Regions from separate parts of the Homo sapiens genome. Here region 1 is reported to be linked to region 2. Evidence: microRNA targets listed by miRTarBase, many of them from high-throughput screens and not tested one by one. Region 2 holds a microRNA gene; the other region holds the end of a gene's coding sequence.
What was found. Region 2 holds the annotated microRNA hsa-miR-3689a-3p (CUGGGAGGUGUGAUAUCGUGGU, at 2,004-2,025, opposite strand). A microRNA usually pairs through its seed, bases 2 to 8, with sites in the 3' UTR of a target mRNA and lowers its output. Matches are read on the target gene's strand: a 7mer-m8 pairs with bases 2 to 8, a 7mer-A1 pairs with bases 2 to 7 and ends in A, and an 8mer does both.

Region 1: the mRNA of CDKAL1 is a reported target of hsa-miR-3689a-3p. Seed matches in the 3' UTR shown: 8mer at 5,476-5,483, 8mer at 5,339-5,346 and 8mer at 4,761-4,768.

Annotation. Positions count from the first base shown.
Region 1 is chr6:21,230,029-21,237,028 of GRCh38, reverse strand. CDKAL1 (CDKAL1 threonylcarbamoyladenosine tRNA methylthiotransferase) reads right to left here. Exons shown (of 16, transcript NM_017774.3): 16 at 4,625-6,181. The coding sequence ends at 5,990. It overlaps LOC107986578 (a long non-coding RNA gene), which reads left to right and starts at 5,970. Exons shown (of 2, transcript XR_001744021.2): 1 at 5,970-6,338. RefSeq lists an enhancer at 5,609-6,808.
Region 2 is chr9:134,847,491-134,854,755 of GRCh38, forward strand. It overlaps MIR3689A (microRNA 3689a), which reads right to left and starts at 2,074; the gene lies at 1,997-2,074. It overlaps MIR3689C (microRNA 3689c), which reads right to left and starts at 1,879; the gene lies at 1,808-1,879. It overlaps MIR3689D1 (microRNA 3689d-1), which reads right to left and starts at 2,192; the gene lies at 2,119-2,192. It overlaps MIR3689B (microRNA 3689b), which reads right to left and starts at 2,782; the gene lies at 2,635-2,782. It also overlaps MIR3689D2, MIR3689E, MIR3689F and LOC101448202.

The sequences.
Region 1 (7,000 bases), not on the chromosome of region 2:
CTCAAAGCAGGATGGGGGAGGGCATGACTTCTAGGCCTCCCTATTAATCTGGTTGCTCTTTTCATCTTTGGCCATGGAAAATCTCCTTCTTGATCTTAGATTGGCCACCCAAATCTGTGCTCCACACTATTCATTAATTTGATCTCCTCAAATACAGCTGCAGTCCATTGCCTTTGAATTTTTCTTCCTTTGCTGCATTTGTTAGAATCAGACTCTATCTCTCTCAAGGTAGGAATCTTTTTATTCCATATATAAATCTTTTGGGTGGTCATGTGTTGATATCAGAATTTAAAACACCTAACTTTATTTATAAAGGTATTTTTCACCTTTAAGTGGCTACAGTAATCAAAAAAGAGGAGGAAATGTCATGTGTCAAGAATACAGTATTTTATATGCATGAGTTCACTTATCTTTCAATGACCCACAATGGAATCTTGTTCCTGTTTTAGAGATGTGGCTCAAAAAGAAAAAGTGGTCTGGCTGGAATTTAAAGTTTTGCTGATGTCAAAAATCTCATGGTCTTTCCTTATATTTTCTGCCTCAAATTTGTATTGGAAACAACTGAGAGCTGAATCCAAGTGATTCTGATTGTTAACTCCTTTACAGTTTCAACATCATAAAAATCAAACTCAACGGCAAGTCCAGTGTAAATTTATCAAACACATGCTATGGATAATCTAACTTTAAAGTAAGGGGAAAATATTTTGAGAAGGGATTAGGACTCCAGATTATAAGTTTGACATGGATCCTTTAAATTAGGTTGTATCATAGAGCAGAGGTTTTCAAACTTTCTTGATTGTTTGTACCCCTAGGCCAAAAGCAGCAGCTAACCTTCTGTTTAAATAGGTAATCCTGACAACTGAATAAGCATTTATATCCTACTATCTTATGAGAACCGTTTGAAAAAATAATACATGTAACTTAGATAAAAATATTAATATTTTATTTCATATTAATTTTACTTATTAATGGCAGCTGTGCATCTGTTGGGTACAGCACCCCTTCTCAAACCTTGGACTATGATCACAATTTTCACTTCTTGTTCCACATTGATTTTCACTTGATACTTGCTTTTTATCACAGCAATTGCTGAAAATCCAGTTTTATAAAGACATGGTGTCATCAAAATTTGTGAAATCTAACGTTGAAAACTGTGAACTATTTTGAGCTGGTAGTTGGCCTGGTATCTGACAGATGTTGCTGTGTTCCCTCCAAAAATTTAAGGAATCCCAGGGTGCTCCTGTGAATGTGCCACAGCATCCTGGGGTGCCTGGGGGGACCAGCAAACCTTTTAGAAAACGTACATATTCATTTTTTATTGTGAGTATTTAAGGTGAACATGTATTGATACACATATACACAGCAAAATGGTGGCTACAGTCAAGTGAATTACCATACCCATCATCTCATATGATTACCTTTTTTGTTGTTGCTGCAAGCCTTAAGAATATCTTTTCTCCTTTTCTTTTTCTTCCTTTTCTCTCCCCTCCTTTCTTCTCTTCCCTCCCTCTCTCTCTTCATTTTTTTCCTATGTTTGTTTTATGATGACAAACCCTCTTGAAGCTTGATTTGTAACTCTAATTCTCCCTCCATGACATCTTACAATATACACTGAAATTTTCAACCTGGAGTGAAGTCAGTAGAAGTAGTATATGTTTTGACTGAATGACATATGGAAATCTGATGTTTAGACACATTTTCCCAGCAACAAAGCAAAGTTTTAACCCAAGAATTCTTTACATTCTCAAACTGACTATCTCATGCTGGGATGATAAGAAAGGAAGCAGGGATGATAAGATGAAGCAGGGACAATAGAAAGGAGGGAAAGAAAGAAGGAAGGAAGGAGGGGGCAGGGCAAAGAAAAAAGCTTGATTAGTAAATCTTTATTTAAAAAGTATATCAAGTACCATGCACATTCTTGGAGCAGGACAACACAGACTGAAAGGCTGAAGGCCCCCAAGCTCAGGCATCCACAGGATTGATCCTAAATGTGTATCTGTTGGCACAGGTCAAGTTTAAGTCAAAGATGGGACAGAGGAGCAGGAGGAGTTTACAGAAGAGGAGTATATGCTTTGGAGTCAGGCTGTGTACCAGTCCTGCCTCTAAACTTAAGAGCTCTGTGCCTCTTGCACAAGTTACTTAGTCTTTTGAGTTTTAGATTTTCTTCTCAGTATGATGGGAATCACAATACGTATCTCAAAATTTTTTCTTCAGGACTGATTAACACCTGTTAAGTGCAAAGTATAACATCCAGTGCATTTCATTTAAGGACTAGACAGTTAATGGTTGTCAATATTATCATTACTATTAAAATAGGAATGACTTGTGGAAGGGAGACAGCAGAGACAAGGTCTGCTGAAGAATATCTAAGGTCCAAAGAGAAAAAATAGTGGGAGAATGACAGAATTCATGTCAACTGCTGGTGGGGATGTAAATTGGTACAACCACTTCAGAAAACCATTTAGCAGTATCTAAGCTGAACATATGCAAATGCTATGACCCAGCAATTCCACCCCTAGACATGTACTCCTCACATCATCACATAAACACTTAACAAAACGTGTTTATAGCAGCATTATTCATAATAGACAAAAAATTGGAAAGAACTCAAATGTAGAATGAACAATGTGGTGTACTCATACACTGAAATACTATTCAGCAATGAACGTGAAGTAATTACTGCTCACACAATAATCTGGATGTGTCTCACAATCACTGTAGAACAAAAGAAGGTAGACATGAAATAGTGCATACTACATGATTCCACTTATAGAAAGTTTAGAATCAGGCAAATCAATCTGTAATGTTAGAAATAAGGATACTGGTTACTCCTTGCGGGGCAGACTTAATGGCTAGGAGGGTACATGGGGAGCCTCCTGGTGCTGGCTACAATGCTTGCTCAGTTTTTAAAAATCCCTGTATCCCTATGATTTATGTCCATTTCATATGTATGTTTTATTCTAGTAAAGAGTTTAAGAAAAAAATTGGCCAAAGCATTGAAAAGATCACTTCATAGGTTTCCTTCTCAGCAGAGAAGTACACACACACACACACACACACACACACACACACACACCCCTTGATACTAATGCAAAGCATACAAAAGCATACAAAGAAAACATAACAATTACATTTACAATCTGCGGGTCAAGCATCCTATCACGGCTGACACTTCGTATAAATCAGGTTACGAATGCTACGGCTACGACCCCCAGATGCCGGTGGCTTAACACAACCACAATATATTTCTGGTTCCTGATGCCTATGTAGCACATGCTGGCCAGGAGCCCTACTCAACTGTACTAACTCAGGGACCCAGGGTCGGGGAGGCGTCATTCTGACATATGGGTCCAGGATCACCACAGCAGTGGGAAGAGCACACAGTAAACCGTACACCAGCTCTGAACATGTCTGCCCCGAAGAAGGACGTGACCCTTCCGCTCACATTTCACATTTCGTGCCTAACTTCAGCGGGGCGGGAGAAGCGCAGTTGCACTGTGGGCAGGAAGGAGACAGGCTGGAAAAGTAACAGCTCTACTCATGATCACACTTGCTCCCGTGGTTCCCAGACTCAGCCCCATTCAGAGTCCAGGGCTTAAGAAAACTGTTTTTAACTTGCACTGCATCCTTCTCTGCTCTCTCCCTCCCCCTCCCTAGAGATGGAGGTCACAGGGGGAAGAAAAACCCTGGATTTCCAGAACACTGCTACCCCTCTCACCAATTGGTCGCCAGTATGGAGACTGATTTCATGAAGGTCCAGCGTCTGCTGCGGGCAGTGACCTCGGTCCCTTTCTGGGTCAAACGGCAGAGTGAAGCTGCAGCCAAATTGAGGGTAAATAACAGTCACAGCAGGAAGTAGGGAGAATCCTGTACAGCTGAAACGATCCTTGAGGATCCCTGCCATGGTAGGTGAGAGCAGCAGGGGGGGAATTTGGATGACTGGGTGTATCATTCTCTTACAGGAAGAAAAAAATGAAAAAAGGCGAGGACAGCATAGAGCTAGAAGGGAGGAAATAAACAGATGAGGGAGTGAGGAAAAGAGTAGGGAAAGAGAAAAGGGAGGTAGAAAAAATCCTTTTTGTCTCCAATCAGTTACAGGTGTAAAGCTTTCTCTATGTCTGATCTAGTGCAACTCTAGGCTTTGGATGGCATTTTTATCTCTGCTAGGTTTTTGTTAAATGAGCACCACACTGGAACCCACTGTTTATTAACAAAGAAATGACTGCGTAGAGCTCAAGAAGGGAGGCACATGGTAGGTTCTTGTCCTCTTCTCATTCCTGCTAAGAAGTGAGGGGTGCTCCCAAGTGGATGTTTCACTGCAGGACTAGAAGCAGCACAGGAGGATTTTTGCATTCTAAATGTGAGCACCTCTTAGAAGCACATACCAGTTCCAGGAGAAATGTACTAACACTAAAAGCATATATATTTTATAATTTACCAACTAGGACATGACTGAATTTTAATTTGGGTTCCTTAAAAGACACACAAAACACAAACATTTTGAGTTAAATGTAAGAGCTGAAGAGGGGTATGGGTTTCGAGATGGAAAATATCCTATGGTAACTACACGGTACCTGGTTTTCCTGTACCTATGCAATCCAAATAAATTCTCAAAAACATAGGATTTGCTTAGTATACCAATTCTATTTATTGTTAAAGAAAGAAGTCACTTCACTTAGTAAAGACCAATGATGGCAGGTAGAAATAAAAACATTTAATCTGGGCTGGGTGGAGTGGCTCACGCCTGTAATCCCAGCACTTTGGGAGGCTGAGGCAAGAAGACTGCTTGAGGCTAGGAGTTCCAGGCAAGCCTGGGCAACATAGTGACACTCATCTCTACAAAAAATTAAAAAATTAGTTGGGCATGGTGGTATATGCCTGTAGCCCCTGGCTATTAGGGAGGCTGAGGTAGGAGGACTGCTTGAGTCCAGGAGGTCAAGGCTGCAGTGAGCCAAGATAGTGCCATTGCACTCCAGCCAGGGTGACAGAGTGAGACCTTGACTCAAAAAAAAAAAAAAACAAAAACAAAAAAAAAACCCCAATGGATCAAAAATGTGAGAAAATGGGCACAATTAGTTTTCGACAAATCCAGTTTTCCAGTTTCATATTTCACAGAATGTTGCCAGGAGTCCTTTAGCTGGCAGACTCTCCCCGTGCATTCCAAAAGCATTCAGGTTCCCAGAACAGGTTTCTATACACTTTTCAGGAACACATCTGCTGTGAAAAATACAATGTTTGTAGCACTGGGACTCCAAACAAAGCCTGAAGGGGAAGATGCACTTAAAAATATTTATTAAAGAGGCCGGGCGCAGTGGCTCACGCCTGTAATCCTAGCACTTTGGGAGGCCGAGGCGGGCGGATCACTTGAGGTCAGGAGTTCGAGACTAGCCTGGCCAACATGGTGAAACTCCGTCTCTACTGAAAACACAAAAAAATTGTCTGGGCTTGGTGGCGCATGCCTGTAATCCCAGCTACTTGGGAGGCTGAGGCAGGAGAATCGTTTGAACCCAGGAGGCAGAGGTTGCAGTGACCTGAGATCGTGCCACTGCACCACTCCAGCCTGGGGGACAAGAGCGAAACTCCATCTGGAAAAAAAAAACAAAGAAAAAGTTTATTAAAGATAGAAAATTCTTCCACATGAGGAAAAGATGGCCAGAGCCACTGTACAATTAGGTTCTGACTTAAAGATTAGAGATTGAAACAAACAGAAAAAAATGCAACCGCTTGCATTTCTTGCTAAAAGTAAACCAAAAGCAGTTTAATTTGAAGGATGTGCTATGGTAGCGGTGATTAGGTTTTAGGTCAAATAACCAATGGGCCCAACTCAATGTGAGACAGGGGGAGCCTCATTAAGAAGAGTGGCTGAGAAGGAGGCAGCATGACCAGTACAAATTATTGCCCTTGGAGAATGGAGATGTCGCTTTCCTGTTCATTGAAGATTTTAATTAGAAATGTATTCTTCTTTATAGATGTTTCCATTAGTTGTATTCTAATTATAGACCTTGACAAAAAAAGCAAAAAGAAGACCCAGCAGAGCCAAGCCCACGGACATCCTCAGCGCACAGTCTTGATGTAGCCTTGGCATGGGCAGCACCATTCTGGAACTCGCTGAGTCACACTGAGATGCAGCAGAGGTGTGGGATCCTGAACTCAGCTGGTTCCCAAGCCCATTTCTGAAGTCCTATAAAGAGAGAAACAGAGGAAAAAATTATTTTTAGATGCAGAGAAAGCCCTGTTGTGATATCAATCAAGCAATGGGTTCCAGAAGGTGCCGCCTTTTATGTACTCCTTCAACAGAGACACGTTTGAACACCCACCATGGGCCAGGTGGCCCCAAGGTAGGTATGAATGAGTCAGTTCCTTTCCTTGAAGGGCCAGGCCAAGTTCATGACTCCAGACTACACATAAACTGTATGAGAAAGACGGGCCGTGTTTATAGAAAATCAAGGCAGAATTCATGAAGGGTAGAATCTGTGTAAAGTGGAGTCATACCACAGACATATTTAACTCTTAGAGAGATGCAACCATATCTTCTCAGCAATGGAAGAATGACAAAGAAACACCATGGGCCAGGTGTGGTGGCTCACGCCTGTAATCCCAGCACTTTGGGAGGCCAAGGCGGGCTGATCACTTGAGGTCAGAGGTTTGAGACCAGCCTGGCCAACATGGTGAAACCCCGTCTCCACTAAAAATATAAAAATTAGCTGGGTGTGGTGGCAGGTGCCGGTAGTCCCAGCTACTCTGGAGGCTGAGGCAGGAGAATTGCTGGAACCTGGAAGGTGAAGGCTACAGTGAGCCAAGATTGCGCTGCTGCACTCCAGCCTGGGCAACAGAGTGAGACCCTGTCTCAAAAACAAACAAACCAACCAACAACCATGGAAGCCATGATTCAGCAAACACATCCCTAGGACAAAGATTCCCAGCTGGTCTGCTGCCACAGGAGGGCTGCGCCAAGAGTGACCCACCCCACATAACCCCACACTCAGTCCCCTCAAAGTAC
Region 2 (7,265 bases):
GTGTGGTGTGTGTGGTGTGTGTGTGTGTGGTGTATGCCTGTGTGTGGAGGTGGTGTTTGTGCATGTGCCTGTGTGGTGTGTGTGCTGGCGTGTGTATGGTATATGTGTGCGTGCCTGTGGGGAATGTGCCTGTGTGTGTGGTGTGTGCTGCATGTGTATAGTGTGCATGCCTGTGTGTGTGGTTTGTGCTGTGTCTGTATAGTGTGTGTGTGGGTGTGGTGTGTGTGCCTGTGTGTATGGGGTGTGTAGTGTGTGTGGGGTGGGGATTGAAGTGCTCTCCTGGGTGACCAGGGCCACTGGGAAGGTTCTCTCTGCCTGGAGCCCAGCGGGCAGGAAGGGCTTTGCAGGAGAGGGAACAGCAGGGCAGAGGCCAGAGGGAGTGGGGAGAGGAAGGGGAAGTGGGAGGGGGCTGGTGTGGCCTGAGCAGAGATGGGGAGGGAAGCCACACGGGGCAGTAACCCAGACGCAGGCTGGGGGCGGTGCAGACCCATGAGAGTGGGTCACACTCCGGCTCCAGGTGTTTCAAAGATGGGGTTGATGGGATTTGCTGAGAAGAGGAGGTCGAAAGTGAGACGAGAGAATTCCAGGAGATGCTCAGCCACAGGCATGACCCCCACAGTGCCGCAGGAGCACACACACACGCGCACACACGTTTACCCACTGACAGCTGTGGCCTGGTGAGACCAGGCTGAGGACAGCTGCCTCAGCGACCCAGGCTCAGATGCCACCAGTGCCCCATGTGGCCTCGGGGAATCTGCTGCTCAGAGCTCCTGTCTGCCCATTTGCACATGGGACCCATGAATGGAGGAGGCACTCTGGCCATGTGGCCAGAGGCCCCGCTCCTGTCCTGCAGATGTCTTGGTGACGAAACCCGATCCATGCATGTGGAGGAAGGTGGGGGCATCCCTGGAGCTGGCCTGTGCCAGGCCAAAGTGCTCCTTTGAGCTGCCCAGGGCTGTCCTAGTGAGTGTCCTCAGGCTCTGGCCACCCAGGAGGGCCAGGGGCGTCTGCATTCGGGAGTGGGTTGGAGAAGGGGACGATGGGAGAGCAGGAAGCTTTTGCAACTGCTCCAGGGCCATTGGGAGGGTGCAATTGGCTGACACCCGGAACTTCATTGATGCTTACCCCACGTGCCCTCTGTGTGGGTCCCGCTCCCAGTGCGGACACCACCTCCTAGCTCTCACTAGCTCATGCAGGCCTCTGGGGCCCTCCTGAATCCACACCTCCCAGGGCTGGGTCCTGGTTGTTCCCCAATGGGGAGCTGTGCCTCTCTATCACCAGCAGGCATGTGATCACACCTCCCAGGAAGCACAGGATCACACCTCCCAGGAAGCACGGGATCACACCTCCCAGGAAGCACGGGATCACACCTCCCAGGAAGCACGGGATCACACCTCCCAGGAAGCACGGGATCACACCTCCCAGGGAGCACGGGATCACACCTCCCAGGGAGCACGGGATCACACCTCCCAGGGAGCATGGGATCACACCTCCCAGGGAGCACGGGATCACACCTCCCAGGGAGCACTGGATCACACCTCCCAGGGAGCACCGGATCACACCTCCCAGGAACCACGATATCACACCTCCCAGGAAGCACAGGATCACACCTCCCAGGAAGCACAGGATCACACCTCCCAGGGAGCACCGGATCACACCTCCCAGGGAGCACCAGATCACACCTCCCAGGAACCACGATATCACACCTCCCAGGAAGCACAGGATCACACCTCCCAGGAAGCACAGGATCACACCTCCCAGGAAGCACAGGATCACACCTCCCAGGAAGCACGGGATCACACCTCCCAGGAACCACAATATCACACCTCCCAGGAACCACGATATCACACCTCCCAGGAACCACGATATCACACCTCCCAGGAACCACGATATCACACCTCCCAGGAAGCACGGGATCAGACCTCCTGGGGAGCACGGGATCACACCTCCCAGGAAGCACAGTATCACACCTCCCAGGAAGCACGGGATCACACCTCCCAGGAACCACGATATCACACCTCCCAGGAAGCACAGGATCACACCTCCCAGGAACCATGATATCACACCTCCCAGGGAGCACAGGATCAGACCCCCCAGGGAGCACAGGATCACACCTCTCAGGAAGAACAGGATCACACCTCCCGGGGAAGACGATAGCACACCTCCCAGCGAGTGTGAGATCACACCTCCCAGTGAGCGTGGGATCACACCTCCCAGGAAGCATGGTATCACACCTCCCAGGAAGCACAGGATCACACCTCCCAGGAAGCACGGGATCACACCTCCCAGGAAGCATGGGATCACACCTCCCAGGGAGCACCAGATCACACCTCCCAGGAACCACGATATCACACCTCCCAGGAACCACGATATCACACCTCCCAGGAACCACGATATCACACCTCCCAGGAACCACGATATCACACCTTCCAGGAAGCACAGGATCACACCTCCCAGGAAGCACGGGATCACACCTCCCAGGAACCACGATATCACACCTCCCAGGAACCACGATATCACACCTCCCAGGAAGCACAGGATCAGACCTCACAGGGAGCACGGGATCACACCTCCCAGGGAGCACGGGATCACACCTCCCAGGGAGCACGGGATCACACCTCCCAGGGAGCACGGGATCACACCTCCCAGGGAGCACGGGATCACACCTCCCAGGAACCACAATATCACACCTCCCAGGAAGCACGGGATCACACCTCCCAGGAACCATGATATCACACCTCCCAGGAAGCACAGGATCAGACCCCCCAGGGAGCACAGGATCACACCGCTCAGGAAGAACAGGATCACACCTCCCAGGGAAGACGATAGCACACCTCCCAGCGAGTGTGAGATCACACCTCCCAGTGAGCGTGGGATCACACCTCCCAGGAAGCATGGTATCACACCTCCCAGGAAGCACAGGATCACACCTCCCAGGAAGCATGGGATCACACCTCCCAGGAAGCACAGGATCACACCTCCCAGGAAGCACGGGATCACACCTCCCAGGAACCACGATATCATACCTCCCAGGAACCATGATATCATACCTCCCAGGAAGCACGGGATCAGACCTCCCAGGGAGCACGGGATCACACCTCCCAGGAACCACGATATCATACCTCCCAGGAACCATGATATCACACCTCCCAGGAGGCATGGGATCAGACCTCCCAGGGAGCACGGGATCACACCTCCCAGGAAAGCACGGGATCAGACCTCCCAGGGAGCACGGGATCACACCTCCCAGCGAGTGTGGGATCACACCTCCCAGGAAGCACAGCATCACACGTCCCAGGAAGCACGATATCACACCTCCCAGGAAGCACAGGATCACACCTTCCAGGAAGCACAGGATCACACCTCCCAGGAACCACGATATCACACCTCCCAGGAAGCACAGGATACACCTCCCAGGGAGCACAGGATCATACCTCCCAGGGAGCACAGGATACACCTCCCAGGGAGCACGGGATCACACCTCCCAGGGAGCACGGGATCACACCTCCCAGGGGAGCCACAGGTTCTTAATGGGACAAGGCCAGCGCTTAGCAGAAGTGTTCCTGGTGTTTCTTGGTGTCTGCCCATCAGTGGCCCCCACCTGGCTGCCTGTTGAAGTCATCCGGGGAGCCCCCTAAAAGTACGCATTCTAGGTCCACCTCTAGGCCTTCTAAGCCAAGCCACCCGCGGGGAGGTGGTGGTAGAACCTGCAGTGTGTGAGGTCCCACACCCCACCCCATAGGGTTCTCTGCTCGGCTACACTTGGAGCTCACTTCACTTCAGCGGCATGGAGACAGTAGCCCCACCCGTCCCCACACACCCGCACTTCTGCAGGAAAGGGCCTTCCGTCAGAGCCCACAGCGGGCTGGGCCTGCAGCTGAATGAAGTCAACTACTTAAACGTCCTGAAGAGGGAAGGAAACCACACTGAATAAAGTTAGAGGTGTGCACATGCAACGTTCTGCATGCTTTAGAGTTACAGGTGTGCACAGGTAGCATTGTGTGTGCTTTGGATGGAGTTGGAGGTGTGCACAGGTAGCATTGTGTGTGCTTTAGATGGAGTTGGAGGTGAGCACAGGTAGCATCGTGTGTGCTTTAGATGGAGCTGGAGGTGTACACAGGTAGCATTGTGTGTGCTTTAGATGGAGTTACAGGTGTGCACAGGTAGCATTATGTGTGCTTTAGATGGAGGTGTGCACAGGTAGCATTGTGTGTACTTTAGATGGAGATGGAGGTGTGCACAGGTAGCATTGTGTGTGCTTTAGATGGAGTTGGAGGTGTGCGCACAAAGCACTGTGTGTGCTTTAAATGGAGTTGGAGGTGTGCACAAAGCATTGTGTGTGCTTTAGATGGAGTTGGAGGTGTGCACAGGTAGCATGGTGTGTGCTTTAGATGGAGTTGGAGGTGTGCGCACAAAGCACTGTGTGTGCTTTAAATGGAGTTGGAGGTGTGCACAGGTAGCATTGTGTGTGCTTTAGATGGAGTTGGAGGTGTGCACAGGCAGCATTGTGTGTGCTTTAGATGGAGTTGGAGGTGTGCACAGGTAGCATTGTGTGTGCTTTAGAAGGAGATGGAGGTGTGCACAGGTAGCATCGTGTGTGCTTTAGATGGAGTTGGAGGTGTGCACAGGCAGCATTGTGTGTGCTTTACATGGAGTTGGAGGTGTGCACAGGTAGCATTGTGTGTGCTTTACATGGAGTTGGAGGTGTGCACAGGTAGCATTGTGTGTGCTTTACATGGAGTTGGAGGTATGCACAGGTAGCATTGTGTGTGCTTTACATGGAGTTGAAGGTGTGCACAGGTAGCATTGTGTGTGCTTTAGATGAAGTTGGAGGTGTGCACAGGTAGCATTGTGTGTGCTTTAGATGGAGTTACAGGTATGCACAGGTAGCATTGTGTGTACTTTAGATGGAGTTGGAGGTGTGCACAGGCAGCATTGTGTGTGCTTTAGATGAAGTTGGAGGTGTGCACAGGTAGCATTGTGTGTACTTTAGATGGAGTTGCAGGTGTGCACAGGTAGCATTGTGTGTGCTTTAGATGGAGTTGGAGGTGTGCACAGGCAGCATTGTGTGTGCTTTAGATGGAGTTGGAGGTGTGCACAGGCAGCATGTGTGTGCTTTAGATGAAGCTGGAGGTGTGCACAGGTAGCATTGTGTGTGCTTTAGATGGAGTTGGAGGTGTGCACAGGCAGCACTGTGTGTGCTTTAGATGAAGTTGGAGGTGTGCACAGGCAGCATTGTGTGTGCTTTAGATGGAGTTGGAGGTGTGCGCAGGTAGCATCGTGTGTGCTTTAGGTGGAGTTGGAGGTGTGCCCATGTAACAAACAGTGGGTGCTTTAGATGCAGACATAAAACATAAGCATATATTTTACATACATATCATAGGAAACATACCACTGCATGGAGATGTGGGAGTCAGATTTAAATATTTCTAATATAATGAAACTACCCAGAGCATAAAAGGGAGCCATTCATTCTGATCCAACAATCTCACAAATGAGACTTTGTCACGAGAGCAATTTCAACAGAGGAGAAGAAACAGGCTGAGGATCCAATCAAAGTGAGGCAGGCTGTCCAGGAAGGCCATGTGGCCGTCTGGGGGTGGTGGATGTGCAACTGTAGTACATGGGAAGAGCAGACCCGGCGACAAGGTCCCACAGCCCTGGGGTGACCACTGAGGCATGGGAGGCATGGATGTTTGTCCAGATTTCCCCTGACAAAATGGCCTGCAAGATGAGAAAGCAGCATCCCCATCCTTGCCCAGGGGCCCTGGGAAGCCCATCCTGACCTCCCAGCAGTGTTCAAGGGGACGCTGCTCCCCCAGGAGAGCCCCTCCAGACATACAAGGCTCAGGCACACAGCCTGTGTTTCCAGTATGGCCAGGTCTCCAAAGGACTCTGAGGTCTGGGAGACCATCCCCAGCTCTGTGGGCTGTCCCCATCATGCCCTCAGCCTGGGAAAGATGGCAGGGGATGGAGGGACTGGGCCTGCTCCTCCTCCCCTCCTGCCAGCTCCCCTCCCAAGCTGGGAGAACTTGCAGGCTGCCTTGGCTCGACTCAGGTTGGGTTGTGATGACCCAGTAGCCTCTCTTGGAGACTGGGGACTGTTTCTGTACCCCAGCCAGGAAAACACCACTTTCTAGTAATATCCCAGGAGTGAATACTTCCACAAAAGCCACATGCACTTTCTGCCCCAAACATCTTGCTTTTTTTCTTTCCAATTGGCAAATGGAAATCACGTAGGTTTGGGAGAAGCCTAATTCCCCGACATCTGTTGAGAACTGACATGTTTAACAGAGCAAGAATCTCACTACCCTTTGGGACTTTCTCAAATTCATTTTAAAACTAGAAGCCACTAGACTGAATGCTCCTTAGAAGGGTCGGGATGATTTCAAAGACTCTTCCTAAAGGTGGGAGACTGATCATATAAGGGCAGCCTGCTCTGTGCTTGCGTTCTTTACCGCTGTATCACAAATGATCCCAAAGCCTGGAGGCTCAAAACCACACCTGTGTGTCATCTCACAGCTTCCGAGGGTCAGGAATCCAGAAACATCTCAGAGGATCTCTGCCTCGGGATCCCTCTTGCCCCAAAATTGCAATCAAGGTGTCACCCAGGACTGGGGTCTTATCCGGAGCTCATCTGGGGAGAGCTCCACTTCCAAACTCACTCACTGTGGTTGGCAGCATTCGGGTCCTTGAGTGCCATTGGACTGAGGGCCTCAGGTGGTGACTAGCTGTTGGCTGGAGGCCACCCTCAGTTCTTTATGATGTGGACCTCCCAGCACAGCCACCTGCTCCATCACAACCACAAGAGGAGAGTCTGCTAGCAAGATGGAAGCACCATCTTTTATGCCAATCACAGAAGGGATGCTCCATGTCCCTTGCTATATTCTGTGGGTTGGAAGCAAATTACTACGCCCAGCCCAGATTCAAGGGGAGGGGACTCCACAAGGTTGAGGGAGCAGCTTGGGGAGCAGCGGTGCCAGCTTTGTGTCAGCCTGCTTAGGGTTCGGGAGGCGTGAGTGTCGATGCCTGTGTGCTCTTCAACTCTGGGACCTGAAGTGTGTTTCTTAAACATTCATGCATGGGATGGGTCAGAAGCGAGATGTCCGGCTGCCTGGTTCCCTCATCCACAAAACAGACTGTGCTTCCACAGCTTGTAGGGTCAGATGAGTTCATGGCTGGGACACGCTTTCTCCCAGGGCCCCAGCAACTGTCATGCACTCAATCACACCAGTGCTGCTCACCATGTGCTGGCCAGGGGATCT